Homo sapiens: one gene and its partners. Each later gene encodes a partner of the first gene's protein in a complex. Each region holds a gene or a part of one and is shown on either strand. Other genes may lie near its edges. The genes, in order: NF2, LATS1 and LATS2.

Region 1 (7,000 bases):
ATCACGCCATTGCACTCCAGCCTGGGCGACAAAGGCAAAAACTCCGTCTCAAAAAAAAAAAAAAAAGGATGCAGTCATCCCAGCCACAGGAACCAGTCTGTGAAAACCAGGCATCTCTTTCTTTCTTTCTCCTGCTACTGGGGCTTGAGATGCTCCTGAGGCCCATCCTCCTCTCCACCTTCTCCATCTGTGGGGAGGCACCTCAGTATTCCTGCCTCAAGGAGGGGGAAGTGCTCCTGGCTGAGCAAGGTCCTGCAGTTCCCAGCCTGCTCCCTGGAGCCCCAGGTGCTTCTGCCACAGCTCAAACACCAGCCAGCTCCCTTGAGGCCGCGTGGCTTGGCACTTCCCAGACTTCAGAAGTAGACACGGCAGCTAAAGAAGGAAACAAAGCCCGACAGCGTTTTTATAAACCACCATATGCTCCCACCTGCAGCCATTGTTAAAGAACAAATTTACAGGTCAGGAGGAAAGTAACTCCTGGTGGAAATCCAGGGATGGGCTTCAAGACTGAGAAGAGACCGGGCATGGTGGCTCACGCCTATAATCCCAGAACTTTGGGAAGCCGGGGTGGGAGGATCACCTGAGGTCAGGAGTTCGAGACCAGTCTGGCTAACATGGCGAAACCCCATCTCTACTAAAAATACAAAAATTAGCCAGGCATGGTGGCACACGCCTGTAGTCCCAGCTACTCGGGAGGCTGAGGCAGGAGAATCTCTTGTACCTGGGAGGCGGAGGTTGCAGTGAGCTGAGATCGTGACACTGCACTCCAGCCTGGGCGACAGAGCGAGACTCCATCTCAAAAAAAAAACAGAAACAGAAACAGAAAAAAAAAAAAAACGGAGGAGGCAGAGCCAGACCTCACTTTACAAACGCCTGAAGCTTCCGCTCCTGGCTGGGTCACACTAGGAAGACACAGGGCCACAACATCCATACTTACGCTCTAGGTCTGGAGTCCCACCCTGTAGACCCTAAGTGGCTGGGTGGCACCCAGGGCTGGTTTCCTTGGGGCAAGGTGACCCAAGCAGTTGCCGAGCAGCCCAACCCCATTAGGTCAGCCTGATAGTAGGAAGAAGGCAGGATCTCTGTGCTCTGTGAGCTGCTAAGTTTCTCAAAACCAGATGGAATTGCCAGAGACCACCTCTGCTCTCCAAAAATCTTGAGGCCCCCATAGCCTCTATCTTTTATCTGATTAAGACAAATCACCTGCTTTGCATAACAGCCAAACTGGAAGGATCTCAAGGGCCCTGGCTGGCCACAGCAGCATCAGCCATGGAGAAAAGAAAGGGCAAGAAGGGGCTGGGTGCAGTGGCTCATGCCTGTAATCCCAGGTGTGAGTTTGAGACCAGCCTAGCTAACATGGCAAAACCCCGTCCCTATTAAAAATACAGAACATTGGCCAAGTGTGGTGGTGCATGCCTGTAGTCCCAGCTACTTGGGAGGCTGAGGCAGGAGAATTGCTTGAACTCAGGAGGTGGAGGTTGCAGTGAGCCGAGATTGTGCCACCACACTCCCACCTGGGTGACAGAGAGAGACTCCATCTCGGAAAAAAAAAAAAAAAAAAAAAAAGAAAGGGCAAGAAGGTGGCCCCAGACCAAGGAGTGAGCCGTGGGGGTGGTTCTGTGGCCCTCTGTTGCCTGGCATGGAGGTGGGTCCTGTGACAGCCTAGGTGAGCGCCACCTGTGAGTGGACACCTGCATCAGGCCTGTGCTGGGAGGGGCACAAAGGGCCCTGGCTGGCCCCCAGGGAACAGAAAATTCAGGGCCCGAAGAGGGACAAGGGCAACAGCAAAGTGAGGCCTGGGTACAACAGTGGGTTGGGAAGTGGGCTGTGGCCACTGGCACGTGGCTGGGAGGGAAGGTGAAGCAGATGGGCCGTGCAGACTGGGCCGGTGGAGCTCAGAGTCTGGGCCAGTGAGAAGCAGCACCTGTGGAGCCACAGGGCTTACAGATCCCTGGTCATAGCCGGGTTACGGGTGCTGACTGCAGTACGACCAGGGAGTACCCCAGCCCCACACAGGAAGGAGCGTCTATGGGCGTCGGGCAATGGGGAAGACATGAGTGGCTCCTGCCTGCCTCTCGGACCCTGGTCTAGGGTGGCCGGAGGGGGACAGCGAGTGCCCTGTACCATCAGCTCCCGCACGGCACTACCCAGCCCCTCGGCTGGCAGTCAGCCTGCATCACAGCTTCTGCCTAAAGTCTCTCCCCAGCCACAGCTGCCCTGCCTATTCCCCACCAGCTGCCAGCCAGAGCGCCGCCTCGGGGTGCCTGGCGGGGACCCAGCACTTGCTCGTCACGAGCTCTGGGCGGGCTCCCTGACGATGAGAAGCCGGCAGGCGTGCTGGCCTGGGATCCGCCGGGCTGGGCTGCTTCGCTGCATGCCAGGTCCTCACCGGTGGGGGAATGAATGTTCCGGAACCCTGGGCGGGGTGGGGATGATGGCACTGGCTTCTCAGGGCTTCAGTGTCTCACTCCCTACAATGACTTCCCAGGCTGGGCGGTGGAGGTCAGCTCTGGAGTGCAAGACACACACACACCGGTGCCTTGGACGAAGGGAGTCAGGAATCCCACATTAGACAAAGGAAGACAAATACTTCTTAAAACAAAGACTCAGGTCAGAGAACTAGAACGCCATGAGAGAAATCTCTACAGGGTCGTAGTTCAAGGCAATTGCACATAAGAGGGGCTGGGCTCTTCACTCAGCTGGGGAAAGTTCTGGAGCTCCCACGGAAACCCCCAGCCAGCTCCCTATGGATGGCTCTCTTGATATCTGGTCCATCCCGCGGTCCCGGTAGCAGGAGAAGTGGCAGGTCCTGGGGTGGCTGGGTCACCTGCTAGAGCTCTTCAAAGAAGGCCACTCGGGACTTGGCGCTCTGCAAGGTGAGCTGTAAGAAAGCAGAGAAGAAGCTGAGAGGGCACAAGACCTCCGCTCTGTCACACAGGGTCCTGTCCTGCCACTTGGACTCACCTCAAAGGTGGCTGGGAGCGAAAGGGAAGGCTGTTCAAATAGATGCTCAAGAAGTTGGCTGTCAGTCCCAAATAAGCGGCCAGATTTGCCCAATAATTCAAATTAGGAGGTGACAAATGAGGATGTGCAAGGGGAAGGCTGGTGGGCAGAGGCACGCCAGCAGGAAAAAGCCGTCAGCATTGCCTCTTGACAGAGGACCGGAGATCCCTGCCTATTTTAATAGATTCTCACATTCCCATCTACCAAGGTCCCTGAGCCACCTCTGTGGTGTGCTGTCTGTGGCGGCACCAGCTGAGGCTGCTCATCCCCTCCGGGCTTGGCAGGGCAAGCATCTTAGTCCTCATGCCCTGGCAACATGGCTGGGGTAAGGTGACGTGGCCTGAGGCAAGGCAGGCCTGTGGCAGATGAGGAAGAGTTTACCCCTTCTACTCCTGGTTTCCCAGGTGGTCCCGAAGCAAACTTGCTCATGACGTGGCAGCTGAGAAGGTGTTTCTCTCCATGAGCTGGAGGCAACGGCTTTCTCAGTGTGGCTTGTGCAGGCAGGGAGGGCTGGTGCACACAGGTGGCACTCTGCCCAGCAAATGTAAAGAAGGACAGTCAGGGAGATGTGGAAGGGGATGGGGTGGATCAGGGACCGAGCTCTTGGCATAGTGAGGTTTGCAACCTCCTAAGCCCTTGACTCTGGGCCACTTCCCAGCATCTCCCTGGATAGAAGCATCTGGAGCCAGCACTCTCCCTACTCCCTGCTCTCTGCTGACTCCTGAAATCAATGCCTTGGGTGTGACTGTGTTCCATTTCCAGCTCCGGGACTTCCCACAGGAGTGCGGGGGTGGAGGGGAGGGAGTCTGTACCATTCATCTTCATATCCCCCAAATATCTGGCTTAGTGTTATGTGCCGATCAGGAGCTCAATGTTTGTTAAGCGACCAGGACGTGGGCTATGAAGATAACTAAACTGAGGTTCGCGGGAGAGGCAAGAGCTCCACACCCGGCTGAGAAGGTCCGAGAGCTCACTCTCTGCCATCAGCAGCTCACTGCAGACACCCCTGACCTCTCTGAGCCTCTTTCCTCTGGAGGTTGCCATGGGGCAGGCAAGATGGTCTGGCCCATTCTCTGGACCCCTCGAGTCTGCATGTGAAGAGTCCTCGGTACTATCGGCGGCTCCATAAAGGGCAGGGGAGGGAGACTCCAAACCCACCACTTCACCATCAGAAGACAGACAGCATTAGTGTGCTCAGAATGAGACAGCTTGAGAGCAACTCTTTAAATCCTGCCAAATCTTTTGGCCTTGAAGTTCCCGACTAACAAGCGGAATGTGGGGAGGCAGCTCAGCTGCCTTCTTCAGTGGAACCAATTTCAGAGCCCTTTGGAAAGCCCGGTTCTGATGGGAATGGAGAGCGCTTTTTTGCCTAAATGGAACTCCCTCTAGAAGGGAGCTGCATCAGGATGGGCTTCTCCCTAAATGTAATCAGAGGAGAAGGGCCAGGAGTTATGTGCCCTGTGATGATGGGAACCAGAATGGTCACTGGGGAAGAAAGGAGGAAGAGATTTAGCTGCCAGATAACTACTGGGGCAAAAATGAGAGAGGGTTTAAATGAAAGCATGTGAGCCCAGTATCTCCGCTCAGGTTTCTGAAAAGAACAGCCACTTTGAGTCAGATACAGGCACAGTCAGCTGCCTGGTGCAAGGCCCAGCTGGGCCACTGACCAGCTGTGTGGCCCTGGGCAGGTCACTTGCTCCCCTCTAGCCTCAGTTCCTCACTGTGAAGCGGGCGTGATGGCAGCCCCTTCCTCGTGGGGTGACAGGCAGAGGAATTGGGAACCGCGTGTGATGCACTCAACACTGCACCTGGCGCATGGTGGGAACTCGGCAGCTGTTATTGCTAATAGCAACATCACGTTTCTCCCCTCCCTGGGGAGGGAGGAGCCCTGGCCCCTCTCCTTCCAGTGGGGAGCAGGGTGCTCGTTAGGAAGGGGTGCAGGCAACAACAAGGTCACGTATGGCACTGGCCTCCATGCCTACCAGGCGGGCCAAGTGATGCCCCTATGAAGCCTGGCCACTTCCCCAGGCAGGGAGCCCAGGCTGTGGGGGCCTTGAGAGGCTCCTGCCCATTTGTGCAATGTTGGCTCCAAGAATTCCTGGATCCTCCACCCGAGGAGCATGCTGGCTGTCCCCTCGAGGTGCTAGGGGAGGGTTCTGGCACTGCCAGCAGCACCAGATTCCAGTGACTCGAGCATGTGCTTATTAGGATGCAGAGTGCTCTGGGGTGGGTGGGGTGCTTCCTGAGCCCCACCTGAGCTGCACTGCAGCGCCTCAGCCCCACCTCTTATCTTGCAAGAGCAGGAGCTTCGCCTCAGCCACAAGTAAAGGTAGAGAGGGAAATCAGTCTGCCCACACAGAAGTAGGAAGGCACCACAGCCACTGGGCAGGAGAGAGAGCCACAGTCCTCCAGAAGGCACTGAGGCGGTCAGAGGGGAAGGCAGACCCACCAGCTGGAGGCAGCCACGACCTGGCTGCACTGGTCAGCAAGGGCTGCTGCCCGAGGGCCCTGGGAGCCTTCGGCCACTGCTGCTCGCCCCTTAGACAGACCTGGCTGCTGCCGCCCCATCCTTTACCCTCATTGTGCAATTCCTATGGGTTCCAATCCCCACAGGAGCCCCGGAGTCAGAATTTACTGCACAATGCTCCTCCCTGCTGCTGGAGGCCACCCCCATGGCTCTGCTTCCACCTTGGGGGTATCCTTTATCTCAGACACCACAATGCCCTCCTCCCAGCAGGTGAAGAAGGCAGGCAGTGAGACGAGGAGAGCCCTTGAGCTTCTTTCCTGCAGGTAGCAGCTCAGTGGAGCCATTTGCCCTCAGGCAGTTTTTCTACAGAGAGCTTGGGAAGCCACCCCGCGGAGCATGCAAACAGCTCTGCCACCTGCACGCCCTGCCTGGGCACTGTCTCGCCCCTCCAGTGGGCAGGCTCCTCACCTGTGGATCTTTCACCATCTGCTGCTTCTAGAAAGCTCACTGGCTGTTACATTTACAGTACACCCATAGGCAGGAAGTATTCATAAAGGAAAAGGCAAAAGCTCAGAAGAAATGGCAAAAAGCTAGCCCTTCATAAAATAAACTCTGCCTCCGAGTCTTCTTTTTAAACACATGAAAACCAGCTAACAAGTTTCCTGGTTCCCCTGCGATGCTCTCATACCCTAAGGTGTGCAGGCCCATCAGTGTTAGGTACATCTTCCTGCTCAGCAACCGGCCTGGGTCCCTCTACACTGCCCAGCAACACCTGCTTGCTAGAGCCAGAAGAGGCCTCCCAAGAAGGCCTTCACCTTGTCCTATGTTGCACTGTGAGTTGAGCACTGAAGCCACTCTGGTGAGTCCCATTCCCACCCTGAATTCCAAACAAAAATGTCCATGCTCCCTTTGGCAATCCAGCAACAGCCCTCCCCTTGCCCAACCTTGCCTGCCTGGGGAGTGGAGTCCCCCCAGGAGGGCGGGGAATTCCTCGCATGCACAATGAGTATCTTGAAGGTTATCCAGGAAGAAGAGGTCTCCAAATTTCAGCAGGTAATGAAGCAGAAGCACCTCAGGGTGTACAACCAGGGTCTCGAGGACAGTGGCTGCACCAGTCTGGGACTTGCCAAGTCTGGTCAACTGCCTTTGAATCCTTCTGAAGACAAGTGAGCCAAGCTCTGGTGAACCTGACCAGTGACGTCTGTCATGCACTGTCCTTCAAAACTTTCACTGAATCTAGACAAGGTCCAACCATGGGAGTCCCGCAGCCAGGCCCAGTTCCTTGGGCAGGCTATAAACCCAAGGGCCCTGCTCAGAGTCTCCAACCCAAAGCGCTCCTGCCAGTTCCCTGAAGATGCCTACAAGAACATGAAGCCTCCGCACCAGGCATGGGCTGACCCGCTGCTCTCCTCCAGCTGTCTCTTCACATCTGATTAGAATCAGCCGTGTGAATAACACAGGAGGAATTAAGTTCTCTCTCGACTGAACCGGCTGCTCAAGTCTGTCACTAATCCAATTCCATTCTGAGGA
Region 2 (7,154 bases), on another chromosome or scaffold:
AGAGAGATATCCTGGCTGAAGCTGACAATGAATGGGTAGTTCGTCTATATTATTCATTCCAAGATAAGGACAATTTATACTTTGTAATGGACTACATTCCTGGGGGTGATATGATGAGCCTATTAATTAGAATGGGCATCTTTCCAGAAAGTCTGGCACGATTCTACATAGCAGAACTTACCTGTGCAGTTGAAAGTGTTCATAAAATGGGTTTTATTCATAGAGATATTAAACCTGATAATATTTTGATTGATCGTGATGGTCATATTAAATTGACTGACTTTGGCCTCTGCACTGGCTTCAGATGGACACACGATTCTAAGTACTATCAGAGTGGTAAGTAAACTCATAAAATTTATTTTAGTTTGTTCATAATAATGTAATTTATTGATGTAGTAAAATATAAGATGGTATCATCACTGGATGAGAGCCAGAAGATGTGGGTCAGGTCTTGATTCTGTTGGATAAACTTGGGTGACTCCATTAGGCACTTAGACTTATGAAATGAAAGAATGTGCTAGACTTGATTGTTTAGACTTATGAAATGAAAGAATGTGCTAGACTTGATTGTTTCTAAATATTATTAACATTTTTGAGTCACACCTTTTACATTTTATTTGAAAATATGCCAGACAAACAATTTTTTTTTTTTTTTTTTTTTGATGGAGTCTCGCTCTGTCGCCCAGGCTGGAGTGCAGTGGCACCATCTTGGCTCACTGCAATATCCCCCTCCTGGGTTCAAGTGATTCTCCTGCCTCAGCCTCCCGAGTAGCTGGGATTATAAGCACCTGCCAGTACGCCCGGCTAATTTTTGTATTTTTAATAGAGATGGGGTTTCACCATGTTGGCCAGGCTGATCTCGAACTCCTGACCTCAGGTGATCCACCTGTCTCAGCCACCCAAAGTGCTGAGATTATAGGTGTGAGCCCCCTGCGCCTGGCCAAAAACATTTTTAAAATAATTTTTTAATGAATCCTCATATCCAACATTCAGTTAAAGAACTAGATTATCAGTACTTTAGAAGCCCTTAAACAATCACTTCCCCTTTTCTCCTCCACAAAGATAATTATTATTTCAGAACTTTATAATCGGTTCTTTACTTTTATCGATCCTTTTATCACAAATGTGTATATCTTTAAATAATATATTATTTCATTTTGCCTACTCTTTAACCTTTATTTAAATATAATCTATATATATTCTTTGTGTTGACTTGTTTGAGGTTCCTCCATGTTATTGCTTGTAACATTTATTTTCACTACTATTTAGGATTTCATTACATGACTGTTACACAACTTATATAACCCTAAACACTTTATGATCCTTGATCCTATTTTATCCTCACAATGTCACTGTGAGGCAGGATGAAGAAACTGAGACCTAGTTAGATGAAGTAACTTGCCCAAGGTCAGACAGAAATCAAGTGTAAGGGCTAGGCTTTGAACCCAGGTTTGTCTGATTTCAGGGCCCATGTTATTTCTACTACACCACACTGCCTCACCAAGATCCCTCCAAGCGCTAATGGAAGTGTAAGTCAATCTAACATTTGTTAAATACTATGTACTAGGTGCTTAACCATATATTCTAATATGCTCGCAACAATTCTCTGAGGTAAGTATTATTAGCCTCCTGTGCTTCTGTGAACACAAGTAGATTGACATTAAAATGGGTAGAACTGAGACAATTGAACCTACTTTAATGTTCGACATAGTGGAATTTAGTGTCTTCCCAGATTCGACTGAATTATTACCTGGAAAGCTTCTTAAAAATATGATTCCTAGGCTCTATTCCCATCTTTTGATCAAAAATCTTCACTGGGGCATAGAAATCTTTTTGTTGTTTTTTGTTTGTTTGTTTGTTTGTTTTTGAGACGGAGTCTCGCTCTGTTGCCCAGGCTGGAGTGCAGTGGCGCAATCTCGGCTCACTGCTAGCTCTGCCTCCCAGGTTCACGCCATTCTCTTGCCTCAGCTTCCCGAGTAGTTGGGACTACAGCCGCCGGCAACCACGCCCGGCTATTTTTTTTTTTTTTTTTTTTTTTTTTTTTTTGGATTTTTAGTAGAGACCAGGTTTCACCGTGTTAGCCAGGACGGTCTCAATCTTCTGACCTCATGATTTGCCTGCCTCTGCCTCCCAAAGTGGCTGGGATTACAGGCGTGAGCGACCACGCCCAGCCTGTTTGTTTTTTTTTTTTTGAGACGGAGTTTTGGTCTGTTGCCAGGCTGGAGTGCAGTGGCGCGATCTCGGCCCACTGCAACCTCCATCTCCTGGGCTCAAGCGATTCTCCTGCTTCAGCCTCCCAAGTAGCTGGAATTACAAGTGTGCTCCACCACACCCAGCTAATTTTTGTATTTTTAGTAGAGATGGGGTTTCACCATGTTGGCCAGGATGGTCTCAATCTCTTGACCTCATGATCCACCCTCCCTGGCCTCCCAAAGGGAAATCATATTTTAATCAAACATCCCAGATAAATATTACAGTTAGGTTAATTTCTTATATTCTAGGTGACTTCATGCCATCTATATGTCAATGAATTCCAAATCTCTCTCTCCAGAAATGGCCTTTCTCTGAAATTCGTAATTTCTCTATCCAGCTGCTTCCTGGCTATCTTCACATGGATTTCAAATAGGCCTTTCAAACTTCACATGACCCATAAAGAACTTTTTTTTTTAAGCATAAATCAGATACTGTTATCTTCTTGCTTCGAACTCTGCAATATCTTCTCACTTTACTTGAGGTAAAAGGCAGACCATTTCTATTGCTTGCAAAACCCACATGTATTCCTGCCGCATTTCTTACAGTTCTTGCCCCATTTCCTACAGTTCTCCCCTTTATCAGCTGTGCTGGTCTTCTCTCTGTTGCTGTTATTTCTGTGTGGAATACCTAATCCTGATTTATAAATGGTTGAGTCCTTCTTGTTTTTTTACGGTTTAGCTGAAGTCACCTTCTTAACTGGTCTTCCCTAGCCATTCAGTCTTATGTAGCTATCCAGTCACATTTGTTACATCACCCTGTGTTGATTCTCTGTGTAGGGTATGTCACTGTTCCTTATATGTGTAATTGTTTTGTTTCTTTTCCTACTAGAATGTAACCAGAGCTTTGTCTTATTATCACTGTCATTTATTGAATGAAAGATGGATCTAATTTGTTTGAAAGTTTGTCCAGAGTAGTAACAGGGAGTGGGCTAAATAACAAACTCTTAATCTCCCCATGACTCATATTGTTGTTATTTAACATTGCATAAATTACTAAATCTTAGGCTAATTTTTTTTAAGTGTAAAATCCTTCCTATTGACATCTCAGAAAATAGGCTCTAATTGGTAATAAACACCATCAGTGATTTGGCATACATTGTGTCTTAGTTTGTCACAAGGGAGAATGTTGTTAACCCTAAACCACGATGTCAGAAGATTAAATAGACTTCAGGTTTACTGTTGTCATTGTTGACTTTATTTACTTATTCTTTTGTTGTGCAGGTGACCATCCACGGCAAGATAGCATGGATTTCAGTAATGAATGGGGGGATCCCTCAAGCTGTCGATGTGGAGACAGACTGAAGCCATTAGAGCGGAGAGCTGCACGCCAGCACCAGCGATGTCTAGCACATTCTTTGGTTGGGACTCCCAATTATATTGCACCTGAAGTGTTGCTACGAACAGGTAAAGCACTTCTTTCATATATATTCTCAGTAGACCTTTAGACCAGCCAAAACGACACTAGAATATGCCTTATTTTTCAGGCTTATAATAAAAGTATTAATTTTAAAGTATAAATTGGTGATTTAATGTTAATTTTTATTGTATTCTGAGCATTTTTAAAGTGCTTATAAATAACTTTGTTATTTTAGGATACACACAGTTGTGTGATTGGTGGAGTGTTGGTGTTATTCTTTTTGAAATGTTGGTGGGACAACCTCCTTTCTTGGCACAAACACCATTAGAAACACAAATGAAGGTAAGGTATGGCATCTATATCAAAAGAATTCTCACAAAGTTGCTACATCATTGACTTTTATTTATTAGTACGTAGAGCATTTTAGTCTGGAGTTAAAGAATGAACTTGGGCCGGGTGCAGTGGCTCACACCCATAATGCCAGTTCTTTGGGAGGCTGAGGCAGGAGGATTGCTTGAGCCTAGGAGTTCAAGATCAGCCTGGCAACAATGTGAGACCACATCTCTACAAACAAATATTTTTTAATTTAAAAAAGGAAAAGAATGAACTTGTAAGGGTATAGGAACTCACCAGAATTGCATGCGTGAACTCCAGTCTCCATGATGCCATATCCCCATAATCTTGTATCCCCCCTCACTCATACAGCATACTCATATATCATATATCATTCTCAAAAAGGTCTTTAGGCCAGGCACGGTGGCTCATGCCTGTAATCCTACCACTTTGGGAGGTGTAGGCGGGTGGATCACCTGAGGTCAGGAGTTTGAGATCAGCCTGGCCAACATGGCGAAACCCCGTCTCTACTGAAAATACAAAAATTAGCGGGGTGTGGTGGCAGGCGCCTGTAATCCCAGCTACTTGGGAAGCTGAGGCGGGAAAATCCCTTGAACTCAGAAGGCGGAGGTTGCAGTGAGCCAAGATCTTGCCATCGCACTCCACCCTGGGTGAAAGGGCGAAACTCCTCAAACAAAACAAAACAAAACAAAAAGGTCTTTAGTCCATTTTGAAGATTTAGTCCAGTTTACTCTTTGTCACCTACTGCCTCCTGGCCTTGTCTCCTTCTATGCAAACTACAAACAAATGTTTATATCCCCACTTGAAAATACCTCTGGCACTTAAATGAGAAGTTACCCACAATTTTGACCATACACTGTCTGATTTAATACTCTTTAGTGATTGTCCGTGGGTTAAAGTTGAAATTTGCCCTCTGTTCATACCGTTCCCTCTGTCTGGAATGTCCTACTTCCATCTCTCTCTTCTATAACCCTTCCTCCTTTCTGAAGTCTAATTAACTCTTGGTCATTCTCTCTTTTTTTTTTTTTTTTTGATACAGAGTCTTGCTCTGTCATCAGGCTAGAGTGCAGTGGCGTGATCTCAGTTCACTACAACTTCTGCCTCCTGGGTTCAAGCAATTCTCGTGCCTCAGCCTCCCGAGTAGCTGGGATTACAGGCATGCGCCATCATACCCAGCTAGTTTTTGTATTTTTAGTAGAGACGAGGTTTCACCGTGTTGGCCAGGATGGTCTCAATCTCCTGAACTTGTGATCTGCCCGCCTCGGCCTCCTGATCATTCTTAATTATTCTTTGAGGGCCAGACATGATGGCTCATGTCTGTAATCCCAGCACTTTATTTATTTTGAGATAAGGTCAAAACATTTCACCTAGGGTGTAATGCAGTGGCGTGATCTCCTCTCATGCAACCTCTGTCTCCTGGCTCAAATGACCTATCTCAGCCTCCTGGGTAGATGGGACCGCAGGTGCATTTTTTTTTGTATTTTTTGTAGATACAGGGTTTTGCCATGTTGCCCAGGCTGGTCTCAAACTCCTGGGCTCAAGTGATCCACCCACCTCAGCCTCCCAAAGTGCTGGGATGGGTGCAGTGGTTCACACCTGTAATCCCAACACTTTGCAAGGTCGTGGCAGACAGATCACTTGAGCCCAGGAGTTTGAGACCAGCCTGGGCAACATGGTGAAACCCCCTCTGTACAAAAAATACAAAAAACTTAGCCAGGCATGGTAATGCATATTTGTGGTCCTAGCTACCTGGGAGGCTAAGGTTGGAGGGTCACTGGAGCCTAGGAGACGTTGCAGTGAGCCATATTTGTGCCACTGCACTCCAGCCTAGGTGACAGAGTGAGATCCCATCTCAAAAAATAAAAAATTTGGCTGGGTGTGGTGGCTCACACCTATTATAATCCCAGCACTTTGGGAGGCCAAGGCAGGTGGATCACCTGAGGTCAGGAGTTTGAGACCAGCCTGGCCAACATGGTGAAACCCTGTCTCTACTAACAATACAAATATTAGCTGGGTGTGGTGGCGCGCCCCTGTAATCCCAGCTACTTGGGAGGCTGAGGCACGGGGATTGCTTGAACCCAGGAGGCAGAGGTTGCAGTGAGCTGAGATCACACCATTGCACTCCAGCCTGGGCAATAAGAGCAAAACTCTGTCTAAAAAAAACAAATTATTCTTTGAGAGTTTCCTGAGATTCCATCGTTTCTTTGATTTCCACCTTTCTTAAGCTATAACTTCTTCAGTCATTGCATTTAATATAGAAATGGTTTTACATTAGCCGGGTGTGGTGGCTCATGCCTGTAATCCCAGCACTTTGGGAGGCTGAGGCGGGTGGATCACCTGAAGTCGGGAGTTCGAGACCAGCCTGACCAACATGGTGAAACCCCGTCTCTACTAAAAATACAAAAATTAGCCGTGCATGGTGGCTGGTACCTGTAGTCCCAGCTATATGGAGGCCCTGAGGCAGGAGAACTCCTTGAACCTGGGAGGCAGAGGTTGCAGTGAGCCGAGATCGCGCCATTGCACTCCAGCCTGGGCGACAGAGTGAGACTCTATCTCAAAAAAAAAAAAAGGAAAAAAAAGAAATGGTTTTACATTTTAAAACTTCTTTTAGGATTTTTTATAGTATAGGTCTGCTGATAAGGCATTCTCTCAGGTTTGTCTCAGGTATGTCTGAAATTATCTTTATTTTGTCTTCATTTGAATATATTTGTGTGTAGGTGTATGAGAGAGAGAAAAAAAATTGTATGCTTTCTCCCTAAGGTTGAGAACAAGGCAGGAATGTCCATTCTCATCAATTCTATGTTCTGGAATCTTAGCCAGCATAATACAGCAATGAAAAGAAATAAAAGGGCTGGGCGCGGTAGCTCATGCCTGTAATCCTAGCACTTTGGTAAGCCAAGGCGGGTGGATTGCTTGAGCCAAGAATTGGAGACCAGCCTGGGCAACATGGCGCAACCGTGTCTCTACAAAAAAAATAGAAAAATTAGCCGAGCATGGCAGTGTGCACCTGTAGTCCCAGCTACTCACGAGGCTGAGGTGGGAGGATCACCTGAGCCTGGGGAGGTCAAGGCTGCAGTGAGCCATGATTATACCACTGCACTCCAGCCTGGGTAATAGAGTAAGATCCTATCTCAAAAAAAAAAAAAAAAAAGAAAAGAAAAGAAAAGGAAGAAGTAAAAAATAAAAACTTC
Region 3 (7,921 bases), on another chromosome or scaffold:
CTGTATATGGATATAAAACGACTCTAAAACAAATGAAACAAGTCGATGTTCCGTTTTCTTCTCGGTTGTCTGGGTCTTGCATGATCTGATCCTATTCTATTTTTATGCTACTGCCCATAGAGAACATTCTTCTGTAGTTAGGCAGATTTTATTTTATTTTATTTTGAGATAGAGTCTGGCTCTGTCGCCCAGGCTGGAGTGCAGTGGCGCCATTTCGGCTCACTGCAACCTCCACTTCCTGGGCTCAAGCGATTCTCGTGCCTCAGTCTCCTGAGTAGCTGGGATTACAGGCATGTACCCCCATGCCTGGTTAATTTTTGTATTTTTAGTAGAGAAAGGGTTCCGCTACGTTGGCCAGGCTGGTCTAGAACTCCTGGCTTCAAGGGATCCGCCCGCCTCGGCCTCCCAAAGTGCTGGGATTACAGGTGTGAGCCACCGTACCCAGCCATAGTTGATATTCTATAGGAGCCTTAGGGAGAGAACCCCTACACTATCCTGGCTTCACAACTGCAGAGGCCTCACAAGCAAGTGGATTCTCTGTGTCTGCTAGGCCTGGAATCGTTCTCTGCTTTGGTTGAGGCTGGAGACACAAGTCTCTGAGTTCCCCTCTTCCTCACTCCACAAAGTCCATTCCCCTTTCAGAGGAAGTATAAGGGAGTAATTTGTTTTCAGTTTCCTTACTTATGAGTATGTTGTAATCATGTGCCTTTTTTTTTACTTTTTTTTTGAGATGAAGTCTTGCTCTGTTGTCCAGGCTAGAGTGCAGTGGCTTGGTCTCCACTCACTGCAACCTCCACCTTCTGGGTTCAAGCAATTCTCCTACCTCAGCCTCCCGAGTAGCTGGGATTACAGGTGCCTGCCACCACGCCCAGCTAATTTTTGTATTTTTAGTAGAGACAGGGTTTCACCATTTTGGCCAGGCTAGTCCCGAACTCCTGACCTCATGATCCACCAGCCTCAGCTTCCCAAAGTGCTGGGATTACAGGCGTGAGCCACCATGCCCAGCCTCATGACTTCTTGAGATTATCTAGAGAGGGCATTATAATTCAGTGTTTCCAATCTCTGGAGTTAGATCTATGAAGGTCTGAATCTCTGCTCTTTGATCTTGGACAAGTTACTTGAGCCGTCTGCATTTCAGGATCCTTTTTTATAAAATGGGTTGAATAACATGGTCGTTTTGAGAATTAAATGATATAATATACAAATTTAGAGCAATACTTGGTATAGAATAAGGACACACACATACACATATGTATATACTATGTCAGTTAATTTATACACTCCAATTTTGTTACTACTGTCCGCTCTATGCTCAGCTGGTCTTGTGTTGTCTCTTTTTCTCCTCTTCTCAGCTAGATACATTATGTAGATGTGCTTATTTAACTGATTAACTTTAAAACATTTTCTGGACCAGGCATGGTGGCTGAAGCCTGTAATCCCAGCACTTTGGGAGGCCAAGGCAGGCAGATCACCTGAGGTCAGGATTTCGAGACCAGCCTGGCCAACATGGTGAAACCCCATCTCTACTAAAAATACAAAAATTAGCCGTGCATGGTGGAGCATGCCTATAATCTCAGCTACTCCAGAGGATGAGGCAGGAGAATTGCTTGAACCCGGGAGATGGAGGTTGCAAGGTTGCAGTGAGCTGATATCTCACCATTGCATTCCAGCCTGGGCGACAGAGCAAGACTCCATCTCAAAAAAAAAAAAAGAAAAAGAAAAAAAGAAAAAAAATTATGTTAACTATCCTACTATAGAAGTATCAGGAAGTATAAGACAAAACCATTCAGAATCACTACACTACATCCAGAGACTACCACTTTTAACATTTGGCTGTGTAATTTTCTGGGCTTTAAAAATAGTTTAAAAAATATACATGTGTACATAGTTTATTGTATATACATATAAAATAAACTTATATTGTTGCTGTTTTTCCTTTCTTTTTTTTGTTTTTAGTAGAGATGGGATCTTACTCTGTTGGCTAGGCTGGTCTCGAACTCCTGGCCTCAAGTGATCCACCCATCTCAGCTTCCCAAAGTGCTGGGATTACAGGCATGAGCCACCATGCCCAGCATGTGTTTTTCTTGAACACCTCTACCTCTACCACACTATAAACCCCATCAGGGGATAAATCTTATGGTTTTGCTTACCATGTTATCCCAAGTATGATTTATTTTAGCACATGGCTCATAGCAGGTACCAATAACAAAACAAAACAGAAACAAAACAAAACAAAAACCCAAACATGGGTTTTTTAATTTTAGCACATGGTTCATAGCAGGTACCGATAACAAAACAGAAAACAAAACAAAAACCCAAACATACAACAACAAACAAAAATGAGAAGGAATGAATGACTGCATGTTAATAAACACAAATCGTTAATCACAACATTCTTCCATGTGAGCGTGTCAGCTTTCCCAACCAAGCCCCTATCTTGGAAACTTGTTTCCAATTTGTCTGTATTCATATATATATATAAAATTTAAAATTTTTAATGTTTTTTAAAAAAGGCACAAAGAATAGTATAGCACACATTATTGAACCCAACCTCCCAGAACCAACAACTTTTAAGATTTTGAGTTTTATTTCCGTTTTTTAAATAAAAGAAAGCATTGTAAAGTTGAAGTCTTCATTTTTTTTCTCTGCTCAATTTCCCTCCTTCCCTCTAATATAAACAACAGCTGTCATGAATTTGGTGTGTGTGATATTGCATTCTATGTCTATACTTATATAAAGTATGTGATCATTTTAGGTTCTGTGGGATTTTGATTATTTATAAATATGGTATCACAGTGTATATATATAGTTCTGCAACTTGCTTTTTTTCACTCCACAGTGCTTTTGAATTCTTTCTACCATCATTTATCCTTTACAACTACAGAGCTAGTTCATTAACTTAGCTACTGTGTATATTCCATCATTTGGATATCTACCTTTCATTTTCCTACCCCTTGACTGGACATTTGGGGTTTTTCTCAATTTTTCACTACTGCAAACAATGCTGAAATGATCATTGTAACTGCAACATTTTTATTAGGTATTTTATGCACAAATTTTAAGGTCCATTAAATCTATTTTATAATATTTTTCATTCCACAAGTGTTTTAAAAATTATTTTTACATCTTTGAAGGCAGAGCAGGAGCAGGATCTTTAAACACACAACAAAAAAAGATTAGCAGCCATGTGGCTTGGGGTTGGGGTGGAGAAAGTATAGTCAGCTTAAGAGTGAAAAGAAGGCCAAGCATGGTGGTGTGCGCCTGTGTTCCCAGCTACCCTAGAGGCTGAGGCAGGAGGATGGCTTGAGCTCAGGAGTTCAAGGCTGATGTGGGCTGCAGTAAGTTATGATTGTGCCACTGCACTCCAGCGTGGGCAATGGAGTGAGACTCTGTCTCTAAGAAAAAAAGGAAAAAATGTGGAAAAGTACATAGGTAATGCCAGTAGGGCTCAATTGCAGAATATTGGCTGGAGACTTATTTTGCTCCCAGTACTGTGCAAGATATCTGGGTAGCATACAGGATACTATCGAAAAATTAAATTGAATTCTAAGCTGCACGATGATGGTTTCTTTTTTTTTTTTTTGCACACTTCTGCTGGCAGGAAGGGATTACGGTTTGATTATCAGAGCCCAAAGAAGAGAGAAAACAGAGATCTGAGAAGATTCCCTGGAAGAGCTGAGGCCTTAAGAGATTGAAAGAGAGGGAGGGGAGGAGGATGAACCAGGGACTGAAGGCTGGGTGAGACTGTCAAAATAGTGCACAGATAATGACCTTTACTACTGTTTCCCATGAGAGTAAAATTTAAAAATTTCACAAGAGTTTGTCAATTAAAGAGGAAATCGAGTTGACTTTAAACACTATATTGACCCTCAGCATCACTTGCCACAGATATAGGTGGTAGGAAGTATGATGTTAGGAGAGCCAGAAGTAGACTGAGGATTTGGCTTCCAGTCTATTATTTCTACTGTGAATCTTTGCACCATCCCTGCTTCTGTCCCTGTACCAGATCCACAGTCCTCAAATGGATAGTGAAGCTGTTCAAAACCCACGACCTCACTTGCTGGTATATACGGTACTATACTATTCCCTACACCATAAAATACTTCTCAGAAAGAAAATATACATGGGGAGGGGAGGTTGATTAAATTAAATCAGGTTAAATTTGGGTGTGCATCAGACGTTCTTTTTTTTTTTTTTTTGAGACGGAGTTTTGCTCTTCTTGCCTAGGCTGGAGTGCAATGATGCGATCTCAGGTCACCGCAACCTCCGCCTCCCGGGTTCCAGTGATTCTCTTGCCTCAGCCTCCCGAAGAGCTGGGATTACAGGCATGAGCCACCACGCCTGGCTAATTTTGTATTTTTAATAGAGACGGGGGTTTCTCCAAGTTGGTCAGGCTGGTCTCGAACTCCCGACCTCAGGTGATCCACCCGCCTAGACCTCTCAAAGTGCTGGGATTACAGGCGTGAGCCACCGCTTCTGGCAAACGTCCTTCTTAATTGTTTGATTCCACTGTCCCAATAGCCGTCTGTCCTTTTCTGCCCCTATTTTTAGTGTCCAGCCACTAGTTGGTAACTTGGTGGCTCCTTCAGGCCTGCTAACTTTTTTTTTTCTTTCACCAAGACTGGTATGAGATACTTAAGAATAGTGGCTTTAACGACAGTTACCAACTTTTAATACAAATGCAGTCGAGAGGGCAAATACTCAAGTTTGGGGGCAGATAGCAGCCAGTCAAATAGGTCCGAGAGGCCCTGGCGAGCTACCGCAGGCCAGCAGGGAGGCCGTGGGCAGGTGGCGGTCGAGGCCGGAGGCAGGAAGCACGGCCGGGCGGGGCTGGGCGGAGCGGCCGCGGAGGAGCAGGGGCCGCAGGCGCCCCGCCCGGACTGGTATGCGGCCGAGAGTGACGCGGGAGGCGGGGTCACGTGACGCCCGTGGAATGCCAACAATGTAGCGAATGTCCCACTTGGGTCTGCGCTTTGGAACCGCGGCGTGAGCGCCCCGGGAAGATGGAGCAGTCGCCGTCCACGCCACCGCCGCCGCCCGGGGCTCCCCCGTCCCTGCGGGGCCAGCAGCAGCTCCAGCCACCAGTGCCCGGTCTCCCGGCGCGAGAGGCCCGGGAGCCGCCGGCCAGGACGCCCCCGAGGGTGTAGACCGCGCCCCTGGAGGTGAGGGGGCTGGGAGCTGGGGTCGGGGCGGCAGCTCGGAGGGTGGCGAGAGTTTCCGCGAAGCGGTCGAGCCCTGCGGCTCCGCGCACCTACTGTGGTGCCGAGGCTCCGGGAAGGGCGCCCGGCGGGGCGGCCGAGGAAGTTTGTCCGGACGGAGCCCTGCGCCCTGCCCCCACGGTCCGCGCCCGCCCGGAGCCGCCCCCGCCCGGCGGCTCGTAGTCCAGGCCGTACGGAGCCCGCGGAGCCGGTTCCAGAGGAGCCGGGGAAGTTGGAGGCCGGCGTCGGGCGGGGGCAGCGGGGCTGCGCCGCTTTGTTGTGCGGCGACCGGGGCGGCCGGGATCCCGGCGGGGCAGGGGCGGCGCGGGCCGGGGGCGGTGTCCTAGACCCGAAAGGCCGTAGCGCCGGGCGCGCCTCTGCTTCCGCTGTCTCCGGGGGATCGGCTTTTCACTAGACGCCCGGCCGGGCGCCCCTGACAGCCTCGGGACCCCCGGTCCGGCGGCGCAGCGGTCCCACGGATCCGGGGCCATCCTCCCGGCCGCGCCATCGTCCCACGGGCCAATCAGTCCTTCAGAGCCCGCCCTGTTGGCCCCCGCCGGCCGCCCCGTCGTCCCGCGAGCCGACGGACCCACGGCGGTGCCGCAGTCGAGGCCGCGCCGCCCCTCAGCCCCCGGTGGCTGCGCCGCCTCACCCACTGCCGCGCGGTTCCCACCCCGTTCCCCGCGGCCGCGCCGCCGGCTCACGGGCCAGTCAGCCCCTCAGAGGCCACCGGACCCTGGGGGCGCCGTTCCTCCCGGGCTGCGGGCGGCCAGGCCCTGCTCGGCGTCTCCCGGCCGGCTGCCGCGCCAACTCTGCGAGTTTGCTCACGGTCTTGGCGGGACGCGGCCCGAGGCGCAGGAGCGCTTTCGTGGCCACGCGAACGGCGGCCGTTGCATAACACGCCATTCCCGTGCCCTAGTTTAGCGACGTGTGGGGGGTTTGGCTTTCTCTTCTGATGTAAGCTCACCTGCGCTTAGCTCCCCAGCCGGACTCTGGAGATGGGGATTCTGACATCATTCACATCTTGCCATCACATCCTTCAGCCCAACTCCAGAACTTCTGGGGAGCTTTCCCTCGGGGATGGAGTGCGGCCTGGAGCAAACCCGTTTGTGAAATGCAAGTCTCCAGTGTCCCGAGGGTTGGGAACGGGGGGCGAGGCGAGGAATGGACCCTGAAGAAGGTAAAACCCACCCGACCAGGGCGCCAAGCAGCCGGTAACAGGGTCCCGAGTTAGCTCGGCGGCTGGCGGCTGTTCTGAGGCCTTTGGATGAGAAATGCTATTTTGCGAGGATCACCATGAAAGAACTTAACTTGCAGATTTTTTTGACAAAAATGTTGTTATTTTAAGACAAGATCTCGCTCTGTCTCCCAGGCTGGAGGGGAGTGGCGCGATCTCGGCTCACTGCAACCTCCGTCTCCCAGGTTCGAGCGATTCTCCTGCCTTAGCCTCCCACGTAGCTGGGATTACAGGCCCGCGCCACCAGCCCAGCTAATTTTGTATTTTTTAGTAGAGACGGGTTTCGCCGTGTTGGCCAGGCTGGCTCTCGAACTCCTGACCTCAGGTGATCCACCTGCCTCCGTCTCCCAGAGTGCTGGGATTACAGGCGTGAGCCACCGCGCCCCACCTGACAAGAATTTTGAACAAGAACTTTTACATTTTCACGCTTCTCTAGGATGGATATGAGTGTTTTTTGTTGTTGTTGTTGTTGTTTTTTGAGACGTTGTCTTGCTCTGTCGCCCAGGCTGGAGTGCAGTGGCGCGATCTCGGCTCACTGCAACCTCGCCTCCTGGGTTCAAGCGATCTCCTACCTCAGTCTCCCGAGTAGCTGGAATTACAGGCGTGTGCCACCACGCCCGGCTAATTTTTTGTATTTTTAGTAGAGACGGGGTTTCGCTGTATTAGCCAGGATGGTCTCAATCTCCTGACCTTGTGATCCGCCCGCCTCAGCCTCCCAAACTGCTGGGATTACAGGCGTAAGCCACCGCACCCAGCCAAGAGTGTTTTTAATGTAATAGCATTAAAAAAATTATTTCACCTTAACTACTAAGCCATAGAGTATACATTTGGCCGGTAAAAAATTCAAATTAATAGCTGAACAGCTCTTTTCACAAAGTATTCAACAAATACGTACATTTTTAAAGGAAAGTTTGCCCGTATTTTAATAAGAAACAAATATACTGAAATTTGAATGGGAAATCACAAAAATGTGTGTGATCTTGCACAAGTGTTTTGCTTAAAATTTTAACTTAGAAGATGAGGGGCCTTCCCTTAATCATGGAAAAAGTAACTCATGGCTGATTATTAGGAAATTTGTGCTAAATCTTGTTGTATATTTTTGGTAAGCTGCTTTGTATGTTTTTTTTTTTTCTGTAACAACCGTTGTAATAAGGTAGTAACAGAAAAAATATTCCAAAATGAGAACGTATAAACTGTTTATGACGTCTATTTAACTGTAATTAACAAGTCAGTGTCTCACAAAATTTTGTCTCATGCAGGTATAGAAGGCACTGAATATAATAATAGTGTAATGAATATACCAGCATTCCTTTGAATATAAGTTGGTGAACATTTAATAACTTTCCAAATCTCAGGCAGTTTAAGGTATCTGAGCAGAGGCTAGCCTGTCTTGCAAAATTACCAAGGTGAATTACTAGAATCATTGAATTATAGAACTGGAAGGGATTCTTCTGGCTTCTCCATCGAGTTTGAAATAGTTTAAGTG

Evidence for each region.
Region 2: the proteins of NF2 (region 1) and LATS1 are in contact, whole or in part, in a crystal structure (PDB 7LWH), measured with the Homo sapiens proteins. Residues at the interface, in NP_000259.1 of Homo sapiens: Pro135, Glu136, Ala137, Val139, Leu140, Tyr144, Asn175, Leu176, Tyr177, Gln178, Met179, Met183, Trp184, Arg187, Trp191, Glu206, Ile210, Asp213, Leu214, Glu215; in NP_004681.1 of Homo sapiens: Pro69, Lys70, Phe71, Gly72, His74, Ala77, Leu78, Glu80, Ile81, Arg82, Ser84, Leu85, Phe88, Ala89, Asn90.
Region 3: the proteins of NF2 (region 1) and LATS2 are in contact, whole or in part, in a crystal structure (PDB 4ZRI), measured with the Homo sapiens proteins. Residues at the interface, in NP_000259.1 of Homo sapiens: Pro135, Glu136, Ala137, Val139, Leu140, Tyr144, Asn175, Leu176, Tyr177, Gln178, Met179, Trp184, Arg187, Trp191, Glu206, Lys209, Ile210; in NP_055387.2 of Homo sapiens: Tyr73, Ala76, Leu77, Glu79, Ile80, Arg81, Ser83, Leu84, Leu85, Phe87, Ala88, Asn89.

The regions. Positions count from the first base shown.
Region 1 is NC_000022.11:29,690,633-29,697,632, reverse strand, and holds part of NF2 (merlin), read right to left. Parts: intron 2,882-7,000; coding exon 2,831-2,881; coding exon of another isoform or gene 2,824-2,830; 3' UTR 1-2,823. UniProt on the Homo sapiens protein: Probable regulator of the Hippo/SWH (Sav/Wts/Hpo) signaling pathway, a signaling pathway that plays a pivotal role in tumor suppression by restricting proliferation and promoting apoptosis.
Region 2 is NC_000006.12:149,673,057-149,680,210, reverse strand, and holds part of LATS1 (serine/threonine-protein kinase LATS1), read left to right. Parts: coding exon 1-336; coding exon of another isoform or gene 337-344; intron 345-1,465; coding exon of another isoform or gene 1,466-1,529; intron 1,530-3,473; coding exon 3,474-3,656; intron 3,657-3,844; coding exon 3,845-3,951; intron 3,952-7,154. UniProt on the Homo sapiens protein: Negative regulator of YAP1 in the Hippo signaling pathway that plays a pivotal role in organ size control and tumor suppression by restricting proliferation and promoting apoptosis.
Region 3 is NC_000013.11:21,058,587-21,066,507, reverse strand, and holds the start of LATS2 (serine/threonine-protein kinase LATS2), read left to right. Parts: upstream 1-4,921; 5' UTR 4,922-5,162; intron 5,163-6,102; exon of another isoform or gene 6,103-6,378; intron 6,379-7,921. UniProt on the Homo sapiens protein: Negative regulator of YAP1 in the Hippo signaling pathway that plays a pivotal role in organ size control and tumor suppression by restricting proliferation and promoting apoptosis.